4 separate regions of the Homo sapiens genome follow, and regions 1, 2 and 4 are each linked to region 3. The links come from fine-mapping of genetic effects on gene expression. A gene starts in region 3. Each other region holds a variant in brackets. All regions are shown on one strand. Distances are from middle to middle. Region 1 holds the start of MIR4758 (microRNA 4758). Region 2 overlaps NTSR1 (neurotensin receptor 1). Region 3 holds the start of LAMA5 (laminin subunit alpha 5). Region 4 overlaps CDH4 (cadherin 4).

What was found. PIP is the estimated chance that this variant, and not a neighbour inherited with it, causes the effect.
Region 1: its variant is fine-mapped to the expression of LAMA5 in sigmoid colon (GTEx, PIP above 0.99). The same link has a PIP of 0.9 or more in skeletal muscle and visceral fat.
Region 2: its variant is fine-mapped to the expression of LAMA5 in monocytes after LPS (Quach 2016, PIP 0.95).
Region 4: its variant is fine-mapped to the expression of LAMA5 in sigmoid colon (GTEx, PIP 0.97).

The regions. Positions count from the first base shown.
Region 1 is chr20:62,328,832-62,333,831 of GRCh38, reverse strand. LAMA5 (laminin subunit alpha 5) reads left to right here. Exons shown (of 80, transcript NM_005560.6): 24 at 126-268; 25 at 351-457; 26 at 589-742; 27 at 1,115-1,275; 28 at 1,352-1,460; 29 at 2,703-2,800; 30 at 2,888-3,089; 31 at 3,218-3,344; 32 at 3,916-4,055; 33 at 4,579-4,694; 34 at 4,777-4,988. MIR4758 (microRNA 4758) reads left to right here and starts at 1,275; the gene lies at 1,275-1,345. The variant C/A (reference allele first, on the strand shown) is at 2,066.
Region 2 is chr20:62,741,564-62,747,142 of GRCh38, reverse strand. All of the region lies in intron 1 of NTSR1 (neurotensin receptor 1), which reads right to left. Among named protein-coding and RNA genes, the nearest start is that of NTSR1-AS1, 9.0 kb to the right of the region's middle. The variant T/C (reference allele first, on the strand shown) is at 2,347.
Region 3 is chr20:62,365,208-62,370,773 of GRCh38, reverse strand. It overlaps LAMA5 (laminin subunit alpha 5), which reads left to right and starts at 3,462. Exons shown (of 80, transcript NM_005560.6): 1 at 3,462-3,825. The coding sequence starts at 3,529. RefSeq lists enhancers at 1,160-1,859, 3,958-4,657, 5,356-5,566 and a silencer at 3,339-3,778.
Region 4 is chr20:61,534,471-61,540,049 of GRCh38, reverse strand. The region is part of intron 2 of CDH4 (cadherin 4); the gene reads right to left. Among named protein-coding and RNA genes, the nearest start is that of CDH4-AS2, 180 kb to the left of the region's middle. RefSeq lists an enhancer at 683-1,662. The variant C/T (reference allele first, on the strand shown) is at 2,189.

The sequences.
Region 1 (5,000 bases), 37 kb after region 3:
AGCCCCGCCACCTTCCTCTGGCTCATGTGGGTGGTAGGACCAGCCTATCCCCAACCCTGTAGGGGGTGCAGCCTGGGGTGGCCCCAAGGGCTGGGCTCAGGAGTCTCACCCCTGCCCCCGCCCAGGCACAGCACAGAGTCAGCCCGTGGCCTTCCCACCCAGCACGGAGCCTGCCTTCATCACCGTGCCCCAGAGGGGCTTCGGAGAGCCCTTTGTGCTGAACCCTGGCACCTGGGCCCTGCGTGTGGAGGCCGAAGGGGTGCTCCTGGTGAGGCAGGGGCCAGAGTGAGGGCTGGGGGCCGGGTCAGGGGGTGGGGCCCACCACTCTCAGCACCACCTCCACCCTGCAGGACTACGTGGTTCTGCTGCCTAGCGCATACTACGAGGCGGCGCTCCTGCAGCTGCGGGTGACTGAGGCCTGCACATACCGTCCCTCTGCCCAGCAGTCTGGCGACAAGTGAGGGCCATGCGTGCGGTGGGACCGGGGTGGGGGCTTCCTGGACCCCCACTGTGCCTGGCTTCCCCCACTCAGGCTGTCTCTGGGGACCTGGGTGGACCTGGGGCTGACCACGGCCTGTGTCCCCCCAGCTGCCTCCTCTACACACACCTCCCCCTGGATGGCTTCCCCTCGGCCGCCGGGCTGGAGGCCCTGTGTCGCCAGGACAACAGCCTGCCCCGGCCCTGCCCCACGGAGCAGCTCAGCCCGTCGCACCCGCCACTGATCACCTGCACGGGCAGTGATGTGCGTGTCCTGGGACCCCACGGAGCAATGGGTGTTGCAGGACCTTGGCCTGGGGGCTGGGGGTCCTGTGGCGGTGGCAGGTTATAGGAGCAGGGCGCTGCCTCAGGCAATGGAGCCCAGCACCCAGGCAGGGCGCCCCTGCCTCCTGCCTCCTGCCTCCTGCATGTGTGACCTCAGTGCCTGTCTGTATGTAGGATTGGCTGTGGCCTCCACATACAGCTCAGCCCCCACCACTTGCCTGGAGATGTCCGGGCCAGGGTGGGACTCGGCTGAAGGGCAGGCCCTGGGGTCAGGGAGGCGCTGGAGTGGGAGGGGAGGGAGGTGGGAAGGGCGAGGGGTGGCGGGCCTCCCGTCACCCTGCCTTCCCTGCAGGTGGACGTCCAGCTTCAAGTGGCAGTGCCACAGCCAGGCCGCTATGCCCTAGTGGTGGAGTACGCCAATGAGGATGCCCGCCAGGAGGTGGGCGTGGCCGTGCACACCCCACAGCGGGCCCCCCAGCAGGGGCTGCTCTCCCTGCACCCCTGCCTGTACAGGTGAGTGGGAGCCGGTGGGGCTGGAGTAAGGGCACGCCCGGGGCTGCCCCACCTGCTGACCACCCTCCCCCCACAGCACCCTGTGCCGGGGCACTGCCCGGGATACCCAGGACCACCTGGCTGTCTTCCACCTGGACTCGGAGGCCAGCGTGAGGCTCACAGCCGAACAGGCACGCTTCTTCCTGGTAAGGACCCCTCAGGTCCCCACCCCAAGGGGTCAGCTTCTTTCAGAAGATTTGAAACATGCATGAGAGGGGAGAGGACAGTTGGGGTCCCAGGTCCCCAAGGCGGCCACACTCGCTCATGCCCAGCCCAGCATGTTTCTTCTGGAACCCCTCCTGCAAGCGTTTTGTGGATTCAGTCCCTTTTGACGTACCCCCGAGCTGTTCCATGTGCTCAGGAAAGCACCTGCAGTCACAGCTCCCTGGCCCCAGGGCAGCCACCTCCTGGCACAGACAGCGTTGGTTGCCTGTTCTGGAACTTTCTTTTCTTTTTTTTTTTTTTTGAAATGGAGTCTCACTCTGTCGCCCAGGCTGGAGCGCAATGGCAAGATCTTGGCTCACTGCAACCTCCACCTCCTGGGTTCAAGCGATTCTCGTGCCTCAGTCTCCCAAGTACCTGAGACTATAGGCACTCACCACCACGCCTGGCTAATTTTCGTATTTTTAGGAGAGACAGGGTTTCACCATATTGGCCAGGCTATTCTCAAACTCCTGACCTCAGGTGATCCGCCCTCTTGGGCCTCCCAAAATGCTGGGATTACAGACAGGAGCCACCATACCTGGCCTGG[C/A]ACTTTCTATAAATGCCACACAACATGTTCTGTGCAGCCGCGTCTCCCACCGTTGTGTCAGCGGATAAGTTGCCGTGTTCCGAGACACCAACCTCACATGGCCGCACGGAAAGGGAGCACCCATTTGCGGCTTGTGCCTGCTGAGTGCCTGCCTGGGTCAGGTCCTGGGAGAGCTGGGCCTGGCCCGGCCTGGTGGCACCAAGCAGCACTCGAGATAAGAGTGGGGGAACAGTGACGGATGGGAGGGCGAGGGGGAGGAAGAGGGCTATGGGAGGAGCCGCATAGGCCTGTGGGCCCAGGAACTGGCCAACACGCTGGTCTGCGGTTGGGGTTTGTGCAGCTGGAGGAGGAGCAAGGGCATCTTGGAAAGAGCAGGGCTCGGTCGGACGCCTGGGTTTGCAGTTTCCTGGGTCTGAGCTGTGTGACCGGCCCCCCCATCGTACCGCCTGCACCCCCCATCGTACCGCCTACACCCCCCCATCGTACCGCCTGCACCCCCCCCATCGTACCGCCTGCACTCCCCATCGTACCGCCTGCACCCCCCCATCGTACCGCCTGCACCCCCCCATCGTACCGCCTGCACCCCCTATCCTCCCCGCACCACGGGCGTTGCAGCATCTCGTCCCTCTGCCTGCAGCACGGGGTCACTCTGGTGCCCATTGAGGAGTTCAGCCCGGAGTTCGTGGAGCCCCGGGTCAGCTGCATCAGCAGCCACGGCGCCTTTGGCCCCAACAGGTAATGGCAGGTAATGGGGCTGGGAGGGGCGCGGCCGAGGGCCCGGCGGCAGGGCCGGCTCTGACTCACCCACTGTGCTCTCACCAGTGCCGCCTGTCTGCCCTCGCGCTTCCCAAAGCCGCCCCAGCCCATCATCCTCAGGGACTGCCAGGTGATCCCGCTGCCGCCCGGCCTCCCGCTGACCCACGCGCAGGATCTCACTCCAGCCATGTCCCCAGCTGGACCCCGACCTCGGCCCCCCACCGCTGTGGACCCTGATGCAGAGCCCACCCTGCTGCGTGAGCCCCAGGTGAGGGCCATAGTCTCTAGAGGGACGGGGGTGTCAGGGCAGGACTCCGGGTCCCAACCCAGGGCAGGTTGTCCAGGGGGCAGCAGGGGCTCATAGCTCAGCCTGCTCACTAGGGCCTATCCCTGCAGGCCACCGTGGTCTTCACCACCCATGTGCCCACGCTGGGCCGCTATGCCTTCCTGCTGCACGGCTACCAGCCAGCCCACCCCACCTTCCCCGTGGAAGTCCTCATCAACGCCGGCCGCGTGTGGCAGGGTGAGTGTCTGGTGTGGGGGGTGGAGAGGCTACCACACACGATGAGGCTGGAATGCCGGCGCCACAGCGTGGCCTGTGCTACCTGCTATGAGCGACAGGCAACATGACTCTGTCCTGCCATCAGTTCTCAAACTAGCTGCCCTTGCAGCCCGCAGCCCCTACCCGCCCGCTCCCGTTCCCAGAAAAGCCTGGGTCTCGCCTCTGTCTCGTGCGTTGGGAAGCCCCGTTGTGCTCCATGGCACGTGGCGAATTGAGGGCTTGCCCCAGGATGCCGCTGGCAGCACATGTGGCCCTGTGTGTTTGTCTGGTTCCTGGCTCGGCCAAGCCTGGGGTCCCGCACATGGAGTTGACCGGTACCTAGAGGTGTCCCGCATGACATCTGTAGGTCATGATGCGGCCAACCCCCGTGACATGAGGGGCCGGCCTTGCAGACCTCTTGGGCACGTCCCGTGCCTGTGGCCGTTGGCCAGCGGGCACTCCTTGGCTGCCCCAACGCTGCCATCTTCAACCCTCTGGGTGTCTTGGGGGCGCTAGAGATGGGGGCCTGACCCTGCCTTTCTCCCCCGCCCAGGCCACGCCAACGCCAGCTTCTGTCCACATGGCTACGGCTGCCGCACCCTGGTGGTGTGTGAGGGCCAGGCCCTGCTGGACGTGACCCACAGCGAGCTCACTGTGACCGTGCGTGTGCCCAAGGGCCGGTGGCTCTGGCTGGTGAGTCCCAGCTGATGTCCTGCTCAGGGACCAGCTGTCCTTATACTTGTCATTACCACTGTGGTACACTTGGGCTGGGTCTGTCTCTTCTGGGCCTGCTGAGGCCTGGCCTTGTGCCCAGCAAAGCAGCTCCTGCCTTTGGGGACCTCCCGATCCACCTTGTGAGGCTCCAGAGGGGCCCTGGACCCTGCACCCTGCACCCTGCTGGTCAGGGTGGCCTTCCTGGAGGAGGTGGGGCCTCCAGGAAGGAGAGGGAAGAGGAAGGCGTGGCCAGCAGACAGAGATGTGGGAGACACCAGGAGGTCTCATGAATGCTGCTGCCTCCTCATGCCCCCGAAAGCTGCTGTTTGGCTTGGAGTGGCCTCCCCTGAGCAGCCAGGGCCCAGGGCTGGGCTGGGCTGGGCTGGGCTGCTGCTGCCAGGACTCTGAGCTGCCTGCAGGACCCTGGTCCCAGCCAGCCTCTGGGGGCCTCCCCGCTGCAGGCTCTGGGCCCGCGGGAGAGTGACCAGGCCTCACCCCCTAGGATTATGTACTCGTGGTCCCTGAGAACGTCTACAGCTTTGGCTACCTCCGGGAGGAGCCCCTGGATAAATCCTATGACTTCATCAGCCACTGCGCAGCCCAGGGCTACCACATCAGGTGGGCAGGGCTCTGGCAGGTCAGGGGTCCGGGGTGGGGGTCTGGGCCGGGAGCTGGCCTCACCACGTGCCCCTCCATGTAGCCCCAGCAGCTCATCCCTGTTCTGCCGAAACGCTGCTGCTTCCCTCTCCCTCTTCTATAACAACGGAGCCCGTCCATGTGGCTGCCACGAAGTAGGTGCTACAGGCCCCACGTGTGAGCCCTTCGGGGGCCAGTGTCCCTGCCATGCCCATGTCATTGGCCGTGACTGCTCCCGCTGTGCCACCGGATACTGGGGCTTCCCCAACTGCAGGCGTGAGTACCCCA
Region 2 (5,579 bases), 380 kb before region 3:
TGGCTCTTGTCCTTCCTTCTGTTCATGTGGTGGATCACATTTACTGATTCATATGTGCTGAACTGTGTTTCCATCCCAGGGATAAATCCCACCTGCTCATGGTGGATGAGCCTTTCAACATGCTGTTGAATGAAGTTTGCCAGTATTTTGTTGAAGATTTTTGCCTCTTGGTTCTTTTCTCATAGCGTCCTTCTCTGGCTTTGGTATCAGGGTAATGCTGACCTTGTAAGATGAGTTAGAAAGTGTTCCTTCCTCTTCACATTTTCGGAATTGTATAAGGACTGGTGTTAATTCTTCTTTAAATGTTTGTAGCATCCATCGGCGAAGCAACCTGGCCCTGCCCTGGGGTTTTCTTTTTTGGGAGGTTTTTGGTAACTGATTCAATCTCCTTCTTTGTTATTGGTCCTTTCAGATTTTCCATTTCTCGCGATTGACTCTAGGAAGCTTGTGAGTTTCTAGGAATGTATCCATTTTTTCCAGGCTGTCCAGCTGGTTTGTATAAAATTGTTCACAGTTTATTATGATCCTTTTGATTTCTGTGGCATCTTGTAAAGTCTCCTCTTTCATATCTGATTTTAGCTATGTCTTCTCTCTTTTTTCTTGGTTAGTCTAGCTTCCCTCCACCTTTCTCCCTTCCTCCCTCCCACAAACATCACTGCCTTGGAGAAGCCATAGGAGCCCCTGCCGTCAGAGGTCTTGGATCCTGGGGAGGAGAGACCACTGAAAGAACCACCTGCAGTGACTTCAGGGCCAATAAGAGCTACAGACACAGCGATGCTGGCGGCAGCCTGGCTGCAGTAGTGCTGGGGGTTCCGGGAAGGCCTCTGCTTGGAGGTGACTTCTCATCTCTGACCTGATGGCACCCACAAGCCTACAGGGACCCTAAGCTCTCCTGGCAGACGGTCCAGCAAACTCACAGACCTGAGAACTCAGGGGGTGAGAACTGAACAGGAAGCAGACGGCCAGGCTGGGGTAGTGTGGGGGCCTGGTGGTGACCCGCCGGGCGGCAGCCTTGACCTTCCCCCTGGCTGACCCCTTCTCTGACCTCTGCTAGTGTGGCCCCCGTCCCTGCCCAGGCTGAGCGTCTACCTCTCTAGGCGTCTCAGCCCTGGCCACATAGGGTGGCCTTGAGGGACTTTGTCCAATGGACTCAAGCAGCTTGAAGGCCATGCAGGGCCGGCCAGAGGATGCCTCAGCGCCACTGATGCCACAGCACCCTGGCGCCTTTCGATTTGTCTCTAAAGAGAGCAGGGAGTCACCTGGCCCAGCCCCATGAATATTCTGGGGGACGCGTGGTGGCTGGGACTCCCAGACCGCCTGGCTTTGCAATTCCAAGCAGCAGGGGAGGGTCATGGCCAACAGCAGGGAAGCCCTGGGGACGGCGAGGCTGTTCAGCAGCTGTAGAGAAGGCCATCCAGTCCCAGCGAGGTCCACGCCAAGCTGGATTTGGAGGCGAGGCAGAATATGTGTCTCTGTCTGTCTTTGTATCTTTCTCCTGTGATGTCTCTGTGTTTTTCTCTGTGTTTTTCTGTGTCTCTGTCTCCTTGTATGTTTTCCTTCCTGTGTCTGTCTCTGTTGTGTCTCTCTCTGTATATCTGTGTGTTTTCCTCTGTGTCTCTGTCTTTCACTGTTTTCCTGTGTCTGTCTCTGTCTGTGTGTCTCTGTTGTTCCTGTGTCTCTATCTCTGTATCTCTGTGTCTCTGTTCTCCTGTGTCTCTCTCTGTCTGTTTTCCTGAGTCTGTGTCTCTATCTCTATATCTCTGTGTCTCTGTCTCTATCTCTGTCTCTGTTTTCTTGTGTCTCTGTATCTCTGTCTCTGTGTCTCCCTGTGTCTGTTTTCCTCTATGTGTCTGTTTCTCTGTCTCTGTGTCTCTCTCCATGTCTCTCTGTGTCTCTGCTTTCCTCTCTGTGTCTCTCTCTCTGTCTTTGTGTTGCTGTCTGTCTGGGTCTCCCTCTGAGTCTGGTGTGTGTACCAACATCCTCAGGTGGCAGGAACTGGCTGGGCCACCCTCCCTGGAGCCGGCTGGGTAGCTGGGCTCTGGGCCATGGGCCTCAGTGGCTGGGTCTGAGGTTTTAGGGGTGGATGTTCCAGAGCAGAAGGTCATGGTGGGAGACAGGGGTGTCTGCTGTGACAGCCGTGGTGGTCTGGAGGTGGGGCTGCCTCCATGGGAATCTCATTCGTGCTTCTGGCAGTATCCTCTGCTGTGTGCACCCCTCAGCTGCTACCCCTTGCCTCCTAGCCCTGTCTGGGTCTGGGAATGGCGTTTGAGTGGTTGGTAGGGCCTCAAGCCTCTCAGAAGCAGCCGAATGCCTGGGGTTTGGTGCCAGAAGTGGGGGCCTGGCTTG[T/C]TCCCTGGCCAGCTGTGAGCTCGGCAGGTCCTCCTGGGCCTCAGGCTCATTTCTCTCTTTTTTTTTTGTGAGACTGAGCTTTGCTCTTGTTGCCCAGGCTGGAGTGCAGTGGCGCGATTTCTGCTTATCACAACCTCCGTCTCCCAGGTTCAAGTGATTCTCCTGCCTCAGCCTTCCTGAGTAGCTGGGATTACAGGCATGTGCCACCATGCCTGGCTAATTTTGTATTTTTTTTTTTTTTTGAGACGGAGTCTTGTTCTGTCACCCAGGCTGGAGTGCAGTGGTGTGATCTCAGCTCATTGCAAGCTCCACCTCCCGGGTTCACGCCATTCTCCTGCCTCAGTCTCCCCAGTAGCTGGGACTACAGGTGCACGCCGCCATGCCTGGCTAATTTTTTTGTATTTTTAGTAGAGACAGGGTTTCACCATGTTAGCCAGGATGGTCTCGATCTCCTGACCTCATGACCCGCCCACCTCGGCCTCCCAAAGTGCTGGGATTACAAACACGAGCCACTGCGTCCAGCCCCTCAGCCTCATTTCTAAAAGAGCGAGCCTAGAGGTGCTGCCTCAGTTCCTGGAGCACTGACTGTGCTCCCTTGGGTGTGGGAAAGGAAGCAAATTGGGGGGCACAGGACTGCGGCTTGGGAGGCTGGGATGGGACACGCTGGGGCGACGGCTGGTGGGGCTGGACCTATGGGAGGGACAGCCTGGCCTCTGCCCCCTCGCATGTGTAATTTTGATGGGGAGGACGGAGGTGGAGTGAAAGGTTAGATAATGAAACAGCAGGTGTGTTAGGGGGATCTGGACCGGGGCGCAGCCTCTGGGTGGTTGGTCTGAGCTTGGCCGTGGAGACCAGGTGGGGAGCGGGAGGGGTGCACACGGTATGCCTGCCCACAGGTGAGGGCACAGCCAGACAGCAGGAGGGTGCCCCCGACACAGGCTCCAGACAGCCGGCCTCAGCCCCTCGACCTCAGGCAGGGCGTTCTCACCTCGCTCTTCGAGAGCAATTGCTTGTTTTGTATTCTGCCTTTCTCTCTAATTCATCCCATTGTGTTTAGATCAAGAGACAGCCCCAGACTGGCACACTGCTTCCCGGCTCCGCAGCCAGCCTGTGCTGAGTGGGAAGGTGCAAAACCCTTTTGCTTTGCAGAACCCAGAGGCTTTGTAAGATGGCTGCAGAGGCTGCGGGGCGGGTGGGAGGGGAGGCTCCTGTCCACACCCTCCCAAGGGGGTGACCGCTGGGGTGGCCTTGCTGGGCTGGCAGGGGATCGCCCTCTCCCTGAGCAGATGACCAGCCCCAGCAGGGCCCAGGCTCACGGACGGTCTTTTCTAACCTCCCAGACAGACTCCAGGTGGAGAGGCCCCCACTAGACCCAGCAAACACTGACTTGGGAGCAACCCTCAGGGTTCTCATGACCCCGAACTGCCTTCCCCACCACAGCTGAGGCCAGGAACGATGGCAGAGTTAATTCAGAAACCCTGTGTGCCAGGGCCGTCAGCACAGGCTTGTTCGAAACCCCAATGATTGGTGAACAACTCAAAGGCTCACCCTTTGGGGCTGGTCGCCATGGCATGACGCACCCACACCACGGGGCACTCAGCTGACTGGACCGGGGGCAGGGAGCAATGAGGCAATGGGTGGGCCTGAGATGGCCGGGATACGTGTCCAGCAGGGGCGGCTCCGTGCTCCCCTCCCAGCCTGACTCTCTGGATTGGAGCCTACCGAGCTGATCTGGGGAGAGGGCAGGGTAGCTGGGAGGGTCTCAGGTGTGTCCCCCAAAAGCTAGACTCCCACAGTGAACTACCTACACAAACAAAGCTAAACTCAGAGAACGTTCCACTTGCCTGTGCTGTGGGTATGTCCCGTGACAGGTGCCCTGGGATGAACAGGAACCCCACGGCCACACCAGAGCCACTGTGACCACCTCACAGCCCTGGAACTGGGGAAACACTGCGGGGAGAGGGATGGGAACCCTGGTGGGTCTCTGCTCCCCATGCCAGAGGTGGGGTGCCAGGGCCAAGAGAGCAAAGGGGTCTTTAAGGTGACACAGCCCAGCGCTTTCCAGGAGTGAGGTCATCCAGGAGGCTCTGACCAGTGGCTGTCCTCAGAGGAGACACCATGGAGGGACCCAGGGAAAAGCAGCGGCCACCCACAGGACACCTGAGACCTAGGGCCCTGTGTAAACAGGTGTCTGGGGAGCAGAGGACGGAAGGCATAAAGAACTGCCAGTGTGACCTTGTTCTAGAAGGTTCTGGTAGTGGCCAGCTTGGGATACTGTGCTGTCCCTCAGTCCCCAGTCTCTTTCCTCGGTCCTCCCTCCCAGGCATCTAAGCAGTACCAGGCCCGGCTCGAGATGCTGCTGGGATCTGGAATGCAAAGCTGTGGGACTTGCTGCCCAGTGGGGACACGCCTGACTCATGGTGGATGGGGGCCTGGAAAGCCGTACATTGCCGCGTGGTCAGCAGTGACCACAGACCTGGCCTGAGGAGGAGCCCACACACCACCTCCTGGAACGCCAGCATTTCTGAGTCCCTGAGGGCAGGACTGGAGAGAGAACAGGCGTGTGACCTGGAGGGGCCATGTCAGCCACCTCGGTGTCTGTGGGACCACTGTGGGGAGGGGATGAAATGGACGGCGCAGCTTCTGGCTAGTACTTGGCCCCTCACGACCCCGTCCACGCCTCCATCAGAGAGCTCTGATGTGCAGGTTTTGGCTCAGTATTAAAAATAACGGTTTGAATTCCTCTAACCTTCACTTTCTAGCTGACATCGACTGTCCTGGGGTCTACACATACTCTGTGTGCACCACCTCAGGCACACAGGTCTCATCTGTGAGGCAGAGGCTCCTGTCAGGCTCCTTTTGTAGATAAAGAAACCCAGGCACAGTTGTGAACCCAGGGGCCTGATCCCACAGCCTGAGCTCCCACTTCCTCCATCAGGGGCCATCCTATGAGCAGATCCTCATCCCCACTGGTGAAGCTTTGTGGCATGTACCTCACCTGAGCAGATGCCTTCTGTGGGCCATTGCCAGGTTTTGAGAGCATCTAGTCCAAGGCTGTGGCTCCTTGGCGACCTCTCAGGGACTGAGCCTGCCCCACAGCCTCTGTCCATGGCTCCTCCACTCTGTTCCCTGCACTTTTCTTCTGGTTTGGAATTTCTGGGAAAGGCTCAAGAGAATGCCAGAGCCCCAGGGAGCCTCAGGGGTTCAGTACCATGGACAATGCCCAGGCATGC
Region 3 (5,566 bases):
GCAGTGGGGGCCTCCTAGGCCAAGAGGCCCAGAAGCTCTCCCAGTCCGCTGGGTTTATGCAATCCTGATGAGACCTTGTCTTCCCGGCACCTGCTGTTCTGTGTCCTCCTCCCAGAGGACTGAGCTGGCCCACGCGAACAGTTCAGAACCAGCCTTGCTGCCCGCTCCCAGCTTCTCTATTTCATGGACAGGGATGGAGGTTCTTACCAGCCGGCTCCACGGAAGGGCATCCCAGCAGCCCTGAGAAAGGGACTGTGGCCTCCGATATCCCAAACCACAGCGCTGGCGTTCCTCCAGACCTCATCCCGCTGAGACAACATTCCCAGTTCTGGAGTGGGAGCCACAAGGCCTCACCCGCAGGCCCGGCCCTAGCAGGAGCCCAGCCTCCAGCCCTCCTTCTTGCTCAGCCCCCGCTTCCTCTTGGGGGCTTCTCCCGAGGGTACAGCACCCACTTGGACCCTGGGCTCTGGGACAGGAGGGTCTGCAGAGTCATCTGTTACTGATTGTGGCTGCCTGTGATGCAGCTGAGTGTGGGCGTGGGGGTGCCCCATGTCCTCAGCACAGCGGTGTCCCCAGGAGGCTCCCAAGGTCAGGAGTTCACGACTCACGGCTGAGTCAGATGTGCCTGTGGCCTACCCTCAGGGTCCCCCACAGCTGCCTGCAGGTGTGGCCGAGTAGGGTGGGGGCATTCTCAGGAATGCCACTGGAGTAGCACTGGGGGCTCAGGTGAGGTGGCTGCCCCCAGGGCTCCGCAGCAGACCTTGTCCCAGGGCTGGGGGAGGATCTGAGACCCCTTCCCCAGGGCCAGGAGTGCCCCTACTTCTCTCGGGCTGCCACTGACCCCTGCCCCCGACCCACCTCCTCTGGGGCTCCATCACCCTGGAGCTGGGTGGGCAGGGGCTCTGGATCTTGGATTGTCCCTGGAGGGCAGCCAGAGCCTGGTGGGACAGAGGCTCCTCCACGGCCCTCCCCTGGCGAGCCACCTCCTTTTACCCTCCCCTCCACTCCCAGACTGGGCAGCTCCCTCCTGTGGATTCAGGACAGGACGTGTTTGGGGGTGGGGTGCCGTCTGACCTGTTGCAGGGAGGAGGACTACGTCACGGGCGGGTGCCCGAAAGATGCCCAGTAAATAGGAGTAAGAAATGAATGATGGACAAACTTCCTCTTGCTTTACTAACTTGTGTGCTCTTGATTGACCCTGGCCTTTTTGGCCTCAGTTTCCCCATTTGTAAATAGAAGAGGTGGCTGGGCTGCGCAGGACTCAGAAAGACAAGGAGACAGGCTCGCTGGTCCATTTGGTGATGACTCACTGGAACCATGACAAAGACAGCAGGGGTGGGGGTGTGCAGAGATGAGCTGCCCCTCTCCCTGCTCACCTCCCCAACCCCCTGTGTGTAGCCCGGCTGGGACAGCCCCCCCGCCCTCCATACGCTCAGCTCCTGCCCCAGCTGCCTCCTTCCCAGTCCGTGCACCAGCAGACACAGGGTGGGGGCAGAGTGTGGGCTCTTTACCCAGCCCCTGGGCCACATTCTCTTGTCCACTGCGCTGCCCGCCTGCCTGCCAGTTGCTCCCGGGGCAGCTGTCTGCCGGGAAGCAGTGAGCCCGGTGATTAACCCTGCTGGTGCTGGCAGCTCCGGCTGACACAGCGCATTCTCAGGGCCGGCCCCCGCTCCCCTCCTGGCCAGTGCCGGGGGACAGCGGAGGCCTGGCAGCTTGGCCTGATCTGGCCGCTAGGAGGCTTAAAGTGCTCTCCCCACCCCCACCTCTCCCCCTGCCCCGCCACTCGCAATCCCACCCCTCCAACCACCCGACCCTCCAGGGATCCCAAGAAGCCCTCAGGGTCTCAGGAGTCTCCACCTCCAGTCCCCCAGGCTGTCAGAGCCCCAAGCTGTCAAGGGGGAGCCCAGAGCCAGAGCACACTGCCTGGGGCCAAGCCCCCACCTGGGGACCCGCTACTGCCCAGAGGCCACTCTCTGCCTCACACGGGATCTAAAGCAGCTCAGAGCCGGACTCTGCGCCTGGACTGCAGATTCCTTGATGTCTCCGCCCCCTCTCCAGCCAGCCCCTCCCCCACTTGGAGCTTCTCCTGCCAAGGGGAGCCGCCTCCTCTCCCCCCTCCCCCAGGTGGGAGAACTAATAGTGAAGTTATGGAAGAATTGCCGGGCCGGAAAGTAGGAGGAGGGAGAGAGGGTCCCATCGCCCTCCCGACTCCGTAGAGAAAGGGCCATACACCCTCTTGGGATTTGAGATTTGCAGGAGGCCAGGGCGCCAGGAAGGTGTGCAAGGAGGTGCACCCTCCAGGGACAGCTGCTAGCTCAGAACCCCCACCAGAACCGGCTGGCCAGTGCCCCACAAACCCACCCAGCCCCCCGGGACTGTCCAGGGAACCCAGCGAGAGATGAGCCCCACAGCCCATCTGGGACCATGGCCCGCCCAGCTGGCCTGGCTCAGGGATGGGGGTTTGCTGCCAGCTCGGCAGCTGCAGCCCCACCCCGCCGCCACCCCCTCGGGGCTTCCCTGGAGGCAGATTTGGCCCCGGAGCCCAAGGGAAGTAGGAGACCCAGGGCCGCAGCCACCCAAAGGCAGACGAAGACCTGATCTCGGCCTCTAGGTCCTGTGCTGTTTGCCAGGCGTCCTCGAGCCGCCGATCGTGGCAGGAACGCGTGCGCGGCTGTGCAGCGGGTTGGAGGCCAGGCCGAGAGAGCTGGTGGAGTCCACCGGGCCCCGGAGCACAGGTGCTTCCAGGCACCCAGCAGGTGCTCAGCAGCTGTGACCAGAGCCCCCGACCTCCTTAAGAGCCAATTTGGCGGCTGTGGGGCCATGAGCACCGCCCCCGTCCTCTAAAGGGGGCTGCAGCTGCAGGCCAGTCCCTCCTGCCCCTATTTCCCTATCTGAGAGTATTTTTAAGCCCTGCTGGGGCAGGCGGGAGCCAGGCCGAGTTGAACCTGACCTGGCTGCCCCAGGAAGCAGGGGGTTCCCACCTAGGCTGCCCCGTTCCTCTGCAGATGGTCATTCGCGGGTGCAGAGGGCACCTTCCCGCAGCCAGCAGGACGGACGCTGTTGGGGGAGGAGCGGGGGCAGCCGAGTGGTGCACCCAAGTTAGGGGAACAAAGAGTGGGCCCCTGGGCTGGGAGGAGCTGGTGGGCGCTCTGGGGGCCAGGGCGTCGTGGGGAGCGCTAGGGTCCCACCCGGGACCCGGAGCTACGACCTGGGCTGGGGGCCCGGCGGCGCCGTCGTCCCACGGCCTGGCCCGAGGCCAGCAGGTGCCCCTTCCGGGAGGCGGCCGGGCCGGGGTCCGAAGGGTTAAGGCCGCCCGGCCGCCCCTCCCCCTCCTCTCTCCTTCCCCCCCCCACCCCGCCTCCCCGGACCTCTCCCCGGGGCTCGGGGCTCGGGCGCTCGGGCGGGCCGGGGCGGGGCCTGACGTCCGCGGGCGGAGCGAGCCCTGCCGGCCGCCTGGCTTCAGACCCGCCGGGCTCCCGCCGCGCGCGCTGTCCCTGGAGCTCGGGGACGCGGCCCGGAGCCGGGAAGATGGCGAAGCGGCTCTGCGCGGGGAGCGCACTGTGTGTTCGCGGCCCCCGGGGCCCCGCGCCGCTGCTGCTGGTCGGGCTGGCGCTGCTGGGCGCGGCGCGGGCGCGGGAGGAGGCGGGCGGCGGCTTCAGCCTGCACCCGCCCTACTTCAACCTGGCCGAGGGCGCCCGCATCGCCGCCTCCGCGACCTGCGGAGAGGAGGCCCCGGCGCGCGGCTCCCCGCGCCCCACCGAGGACCTTTACTGCAAGCTGGTAGGGGGCCCCGTGGCCGGCGGCGACCCCAACCAGACCATCCGGGTGAGCGCAGGGGCGGGCCGTGGGGCTTCCTCCCGGGGCACTCGGACCCGGAACACCGGCCCGACCCCAGGGGGAGCGCCGTGGCCCGGGGCGAGTCCAGGTGCGGACTCTCTGGTTCCGCATTTTGGGGGCCCAAGAAGGCACCCCGACCCGGCCGCTCCGTCTCGGCCGGGAAACTTCGCGTCCCTCCGGGAAGGCGGAATTAAAGTCCCCGGCATGGACCCGGGGGCGGCTGGGCGCCGGTCCAGTTCGACTGCGGTGACCGGGGCGGGAGGGGGGCCGGGCCCAGTCCCTGGCGGCCCCAAGTCCGGGATCCCGGGGAGGGCGGGACTTGGCCTCCGCCGCCTGCTGCCGGTGGGGAGGGGGCGCAGCTCCGCCCTACCCGGGACAGGCTGGAACCTGTTGGCCTCTGGATGGGGTGGGAGGGGCCAGCCACCTGAGGCTCCCACTAGCCCCTCTCGGAGGAGTCTAGGGACTCGAGGAGACCTCCAAAGTAGGGGAGGGCCAGCTGCGAAGTTTTGACTGGGGCTGGGAACACGTGGCTCCCAGGAGGGGCAGCATCTCTGCCCAGCAGGTGGTAGGGTCCGGGGGCTTCAGTCTCCCTGGGAGATGTGGGTTCAGGCCCTGAAGACCCCCTGGGGTGCATGTCCCCTCCCCAACAAGCCTTAAACCTGTAGGCGGGTTCTGTTGGTGGACTCCATGCATGGACACCTCACCTGAAAACCAAGGCTCTTGGGGCCCTGTAGACTTAGGTTGGGCCTGGGGTCAGCCTTGGGTGAGGAGCAGCAAAGTCAGCTCCAACGGCTCCCAACCGGCCGCTCTAGGCCCATTCCCCACCTCAGCCCCACCTTAGGGAGAGTCTAGGGGCCCTGAGGGCCTGTGTAACCTGAGCTGTCTCCTCCCTGGTACCTCTGCCTTCCCGGAAGGAGAGGCTGGGGCAGGGGCGAGTAGCTGGAGATTTGCTGGGTGGGGGCAGAGGGCCCTGGAGCAAGACGTTATGGGGATGAATGGAGGAGCCTGGGCTGGGCCCGCCCCCTCTGCCTGCCCCACCCCCTTGGCCCTGGTGGAGGGGGAAGGAGCCTCCCCAGGCTTCTGGGCTCACCGTTCTCTCCTTAAGCCCAGCACAGTCCTCTGAGATAGGAGGTCTCAAGCCCACACTTCAGATGGGGGATCTGAGCCCTGGAAAGCTGCTGACACCTGCTTGGAGCCCCCCAGCCAGAACAGGGTCCAGCGGGGGTTAGCTGTGGGAACCTGGGTGCCTCCTGGCTGCCCCCTTATCTGGTCAACTCAGAGGGGCCGGGTCTCAGGACGGAGGGCCTGTGACTGTCTCCTTACCTGCTGCCACACCTCACCACAGAGGGCCTGGCTGAGTGTCCCCAGCTGAGATTTTGCCGTTCTGGCAGGGGAGGCTCCAGGTGCCCTGTGAACCTCAGACCACCCCCCCACAGCCTGCCCATGCTGCGTGGCTGGGGGCCACAGGCCCCCTCTCAGATCTGTCTCCTCTGTGGGGGCTTATTACCCCCGTCTCGTGAGTAAAGGGCCAGCCTGTAGTCAACGCCCCTCTCCTCTGCCTCAGCTGTGTGGCTTCCCTCTGTCAGCCTCAAGCTGTCTTTAAAATGGGCACAGCGTGCTGGCCCCCCTCACCTGAGACTGTGAGCTTGGCCCGAGGAGCCTGGGAAGTGGCCACAGTTTCAGTGGCAGCTGTGGGCTGTGGTGCTCCATGCCTCAGAGCCAGCTTGGA
Region 4 (5,579 bases), 830 kb after region 3:
CCACCAACCAATCGGATCGAATTGCCTCCCAGGTGAGGCTGCTCTGAACGCTGCGGGCATCGGGGAGGAGAACGGTGGGAAGCTGGGAGGGAATTGGACAGGGAATGTGGTGAGCACACAGAGTCCACACAGTTCTCCAAACACTCTCTTTCAAATCCTGTGTGCACAGAGATCCACTCGGCAAGACCCTCTGGAGAGGCATAGTCATGTGCTCAGCTCCGGCCAAGGGAATATGCGCAGAAGCCATGGAGGTCAAGAGCTGGCGTGTCCCTGCTCTGCTCCCTCTCGTCCTGTGACAGCAGGGCTTGGGGGGGACACCACCAGGAGCCCCAAGCCAATGCTTGGCGGACCACTGCCCAGGGCAGACTGTGCTCTGTGGCTGCCTTGCTGAACAGCTTGAGCTCAACTTCAACTCGGATTCCTAGGCTGAGTCCTAATCCCGTCAGAACATGGCTGTATTTGGAGCTGGGCCTTTAAAACGGGGTTAAGGCAAAATCAGGCCATTAGGGTGGGGCCTAATCCAACCTGGCTGGCGTCCTTATAAGAGGAGGAGGTGAGGACACAGACACACACACAGGGACGACTCCGTGAGGACACAGGGAGAAGATGGCATCTACAAGCCAAGGAGAGAGGTCTCAGAAGAAGCCAGCTCTTCCCACACCTTAGTCTTGGGTTTCGAGCTCCTGAATTGTAAGAAAATAAATCTCTGTTGTTTAAGCCCCCAAGGAGTGGTGCTTGGTTGGTCCCAACTGACTAATACACCTACACTGTGGACACGGCCCATGCAAGAAGTAAGCTGGGGCTGGGTGAGACCCAGAGGCTTCAAAGCAAGGTGAGGAGAAGATGCTGAGAACAGGAGGCCAGAGGCAGCTGTGCACTCCTGGGGACTCCTCCAGGGCCGTGGGTGCACCGGCCACGGTGGGCAGCAGCAGAGCGTGTGGAGTATCTCAAGTTCCCTTCCCCCTCCACCTGACCCGCTGCGGATCTGCTGTGGATCCCAAACCCTGGGATCCTCCTTTAGTCCTCCTCCCCTGCCTCCAGCGGCAGAGACCGAAGCAGGTTTCTTGATGGCCACAACCCAGGCCCAAGCCACCTCCTGTACCTGGCATCAGGCAGGAAGCCACGGTGCCCTGGGGCAACCTCCCCACCCCCTGCACAAACATCAGAGCCTCCTAAGAGCCTGACCCCATTAGCATTTCCGCCCAGCCCCATGCCTGGCCTGCAGCAGGGAGCCAGCAAGTATGTGCTGATTAGACGAGAAGTGGCATATCTGGATGGGGGTGGCCCCCAAATCACGATGTGACCCAGGCCTGGGGACAGTCGCACCCAGTGGGAATAGTGGGAGCAAGTGTCCCATCCACCCTCCTGGGGACAGGGAGGACTGGGAGCTGTGCCCAGCCACATGGCCTCCCATGAACGCACGAGGGGCAGGAGGTACCAGATCCTGGGAAGGAGTCCTCACTGCATCCACCCAGGAGGCACCAGCAGGGACAGGCGGATGTTAAAGTGTTGGCTCCAGGAAGGCCAGGCGAAAGTACACAGAGTAGGAGGAGAGAGGAGGGAAGGATGAGGTCAGGAGTGGGGGCCTGGGTTTCCGGCTCTGGGTTGGGGCATGGATATTAGTTCTGTCCTTTGTGTATCAGAGCAGAACAAATCTGTCTGTGAGTAAACCTCTTGACTTGATGCGATTCCTCTCCTACCAATCTCTGGTGCACCAGCCCCTGGGGAGGGGAGATGGCAGGTGTCCTTCTCCCAGAGTGACGGGCACAGCTGGAGGGATAAAGGACACTGCTGGATCAGCCCTAGAAAACGCTGCTCAAACCAGAAGAGGTTCAAAGGAAAGCCCATGGAAAACGGGTGCCCACCACATATCTCAGACAAATGGGTGTGTGGGCTTTCCTGGAAAATACAGCTTTGGGTGGACTTGAACTTGGCCTCTCGGACAGCTCCTGTGTGAATGCACCTCCTCACAGGCCGGGGGCCTGGCTTTGTACATAATTAAGCAGCCTAGGGGTTTGGAGGGGCTCACTATTGCTCAAACAAGTGGGAGAACTTGGTCTTCATAGCAATGTGGCCGGGTTGGCCTGACCCCACCATGACCCGGTGGTAGTTCCCAGGGATGCAGACACTGCGGAGAGGAACTGGAGACAGCAGGCCACGCAGCCGACTCGCTCGGCCCCTTTCATGG[C/T]GCTGTGATGTTTCTGTCACTCAAGGGGACCATTCTCTCCTAGTCTAACTCCAGAGCCCCTTGGCTTCCAACTCAATGAGGCTTTTCAAGCTCTCCTTTGAAAGACCCGGCTTGTTAACTCCCAACAAGGCATCTGCCTTTTGAGTCTGCACAGAAAGGGAGGAGAATGGCTTAAAAAACACCCCTCACAACGCCTCGTGAGTGGGGAGGGCAGTGCGTGCCTGTCCGCGAAGCCCGCTTCTGCTTCTAAATCACTCCTGGCTCCTTGAGTTCTAGACCGGGGTAGGGCGATTTCCTTCCAGGTTTGTGTCTTCTTTTTATGTTTACCGTGGAGAAAGTGGTAGGCAGAGAGCTCTTGATGAGGGCACCTGGCTGTGAGGTTGCGGTCCCCAGCTCCCTGCCCTCCCGAGCTGGCCTGGGCCTCCCTGATGACCTGGGACACATCACCGGCCACGTGCTCAGTCAGTCAGCCTCTCCCTCTCTTCTCAGGGCAGGGATACCTGGTTAGTGCTGTGTGATGCTTCTCTACACAATGGCTACTGAGGAGAGAAAAATTGCAAGCAATGAAGGATAAGTAAAATGTCGGATTTCAAATATTAGACCTCTAAGGGGCCCTAAGAAAAATTATTTTAACAATTCCACTGACACATTGTACCATGTGACAAAGGCAGCAGCAGATAGCTCAGGGGGAAAGAAAGTGAACAGTCAAAAGCAATGATGTAGACCTCAGCCTTTAAACAGGTGAAATGGCATGACGCCTGGCATCCCCAGTGAACGCCTGTCTACCAGCCCTGCAGGGAGGGGACACTGAGTCTCCAAGTGGTTTCTGGGGGTGCTCAGAGCATCATTTGTCCACTTGGTCATTCGTTCATTCACACCCATCCGTCTTGAGCCAGACACTCCCAGGCACTGGAGCATAGGGTGTACCTGCAGCTAGGGCCTTCCTGGGACCCACCGGCCTCTTCTCTGGAGGGGAGGGCCAGCCCCTGCGCTGAACACACTGGGCCTGGCCAGCTCTCTGCTGTGCCCTCCTTCCTTCCTCTCGTCACTGTGGGGTGTGTAGCGGCATCCCCAAACTATACCCACCAGATGCCAGGGCACTGCTCCCAGACGGGGCAACCGAAGCTGTCTCTAGACATGTATGTGTATATGTATGTATGTAGGCCTAGACGTATGTATGCACATAAAATAATGCTGCGGTCAGACACGCTAATTAAAGTTATTCTTTTATTTCGTGAGACAATGCATCATAGAGTCCTGTTTTTCCTCTACCGTATTAGTGTGGCCTCGCAATGGGGGTGCCTGGGGAGCATCGGAAGGGGTGAGGGGCCTGGCTTGAGTTTCGTGGGTTATCAATGCCCACGAGCCTTTTCTCCCTCCCCCTCCCTCCCTGCCCCACTCCCTCCCCTTCCTCTTTCCCTCCTTAGTAATCATGAACATTATCATTTGTCTCATGATGGAACTTTCCATGGGTTGTTCTGTTTGGGTGCGGCCTCTTCCTTTCCACCACCACCCAGTGGATCCATCTTCCCAGTTAAGCCATGTCTGTGCCCTCAGCCCTGTTGGCAGAGCCTCCCAAGTGCTTAGGGACTTCTGGGTTCGGGGGGCAGGAGGGGAGCCACGGCTTTGGATCTGAGATGTGTTTGTTGCACCCGTGGAACACACGAGGGAGGCAGTGAGGCTTCTCCGAGCAGAGCCCTTCCCTGCGGCTGGTTTGGGCCTGGCTGGCCTGGCCGGGTTCTGTGCCTGCAGGTAGCCTGGGCCACTCACTGGGCCATTCCCATGGTCTTCCAGGCTCTGGTGGGGCTCCGGGGGCACTCCTAATGCCATAAGAAGTGCAGAGTGGAAGCAGGCAGTGTGGGGTCTGCTGGGTTGAAATACTGAGGGAGGTAAGCACCCCAATCTTTCAGGATGTGGCTAGATTCCCAGCTAGGCACAACATTGCTTGCCACCTTGAAACCCAAAGGGCGTCTAACCTAGAGGAGCACAGTGCAAAGGGGCAGGAGCGGGAACAGGGGGTTCGAATGCCCAAAGGACCGGCACTGAAGGGCCCCCACACTCTCCCCATGGCGGCTCAGGGGCGAGTACAGGGGATTCAAACGCCCAAAGGACCGGCACTGAAGGGCCCCCATACCCTCCCCATGGAGGCTCAGGGGTATGCAGCCCGGGCCCCCTCTCAGAAGGGCCCCGCACCAGGTGAATGCTCTGCTGCTGCCCTCGGGAAGTCCCAATGCTTTTTGAAGAAGGCCCCCGCGTTTTCATCCTGCACCAGGCCCCACAAATTATGTCACTGCTTCTGACTTTCCCATATGTAATTTATTTCTAAAAACATTCTACTTAAAAGGCTTTCTGGGAAAACTACAAATTGATTTTTTCCCCAAGCTTGACATTACAACCATTATTTCCTCTCTGTCAGCAACTGCCTCGACAAATGGACCTGGGTTTTCCAAGAGCCAGGCCCTTCCTTGTTCCGTGGGCCTGGGGATGGGATCCGTGCCCACGAGGCTGAGCCTGAGGGCCGCCCCGGGGCTGTCCCCTTGGCCAGGGCACCTCTGCACCTGACTCAGCCTGCCCCACTGTAGGGCTGCTGGGAACCAGTCGAGACTACTGGATCTGCCACTGAAGTTACAGGTCATCAGGTCGCACTTCTGAGCCTCAGCTTCCTCGCCTGTGAAATAGGAATCAGTCATGGCAATGCCCAGCCCAGTCACAGGTTTCAGTAGATCAACTATGGTGAGGGCTCAACCAGCGCCACCCATCCATGCCCCTTGGAGGGAATGGTTGGTTTTAAGGACAGAACCTCCACATGAGTCTGCAAAGGTTTGTATTAACCAGGAGGAGGGAATTCATCTATTTGATTGTCCCTTTAAGTGAGCAGGGCTGGCTTCTGAATGGATCCAGGATGAGCAGGCATCTCTGCCACTGTCCCACCAGAGGCTGCTCCAAAGGAGCGTCCCAGCAAGGGAGGCCATCGGGTTGAGGATGAGCAGGCATCTCTGCCACTGTCCCACCAGAGGCTGCTCCAAAGGAGCGTCCCAGCAAGGGAGGCCGTCGGGTTGAGGATGAACAGGCATCTCTGCCACTGTCCCACCAGAGGCTGCTCCAAAGGAGCGTCCCAGCAAGGGAGGCCGTCGGGTTGACCACACAGCTGGCACAAGTTTAGGAAAACACCTCAAAAAAAAAAAAAAAAAAAAAAGAAAGAAAGAAAGAAAAGAAAGAAAGAAAAGAAAAAACCACCACTTAGAATCTGATCCCTGCAGAAGGAGAGGACAGCAACACCGCAAGGCCTCAGCCTCCGGCCCGGTCCCGTGCCCTCCCACATCAGGTGCCTGCAGACAGCTGGCTGGGAGCTCTTCCAGGCTCTCAGCCTCCGATCACGGCGGTGAGCCTG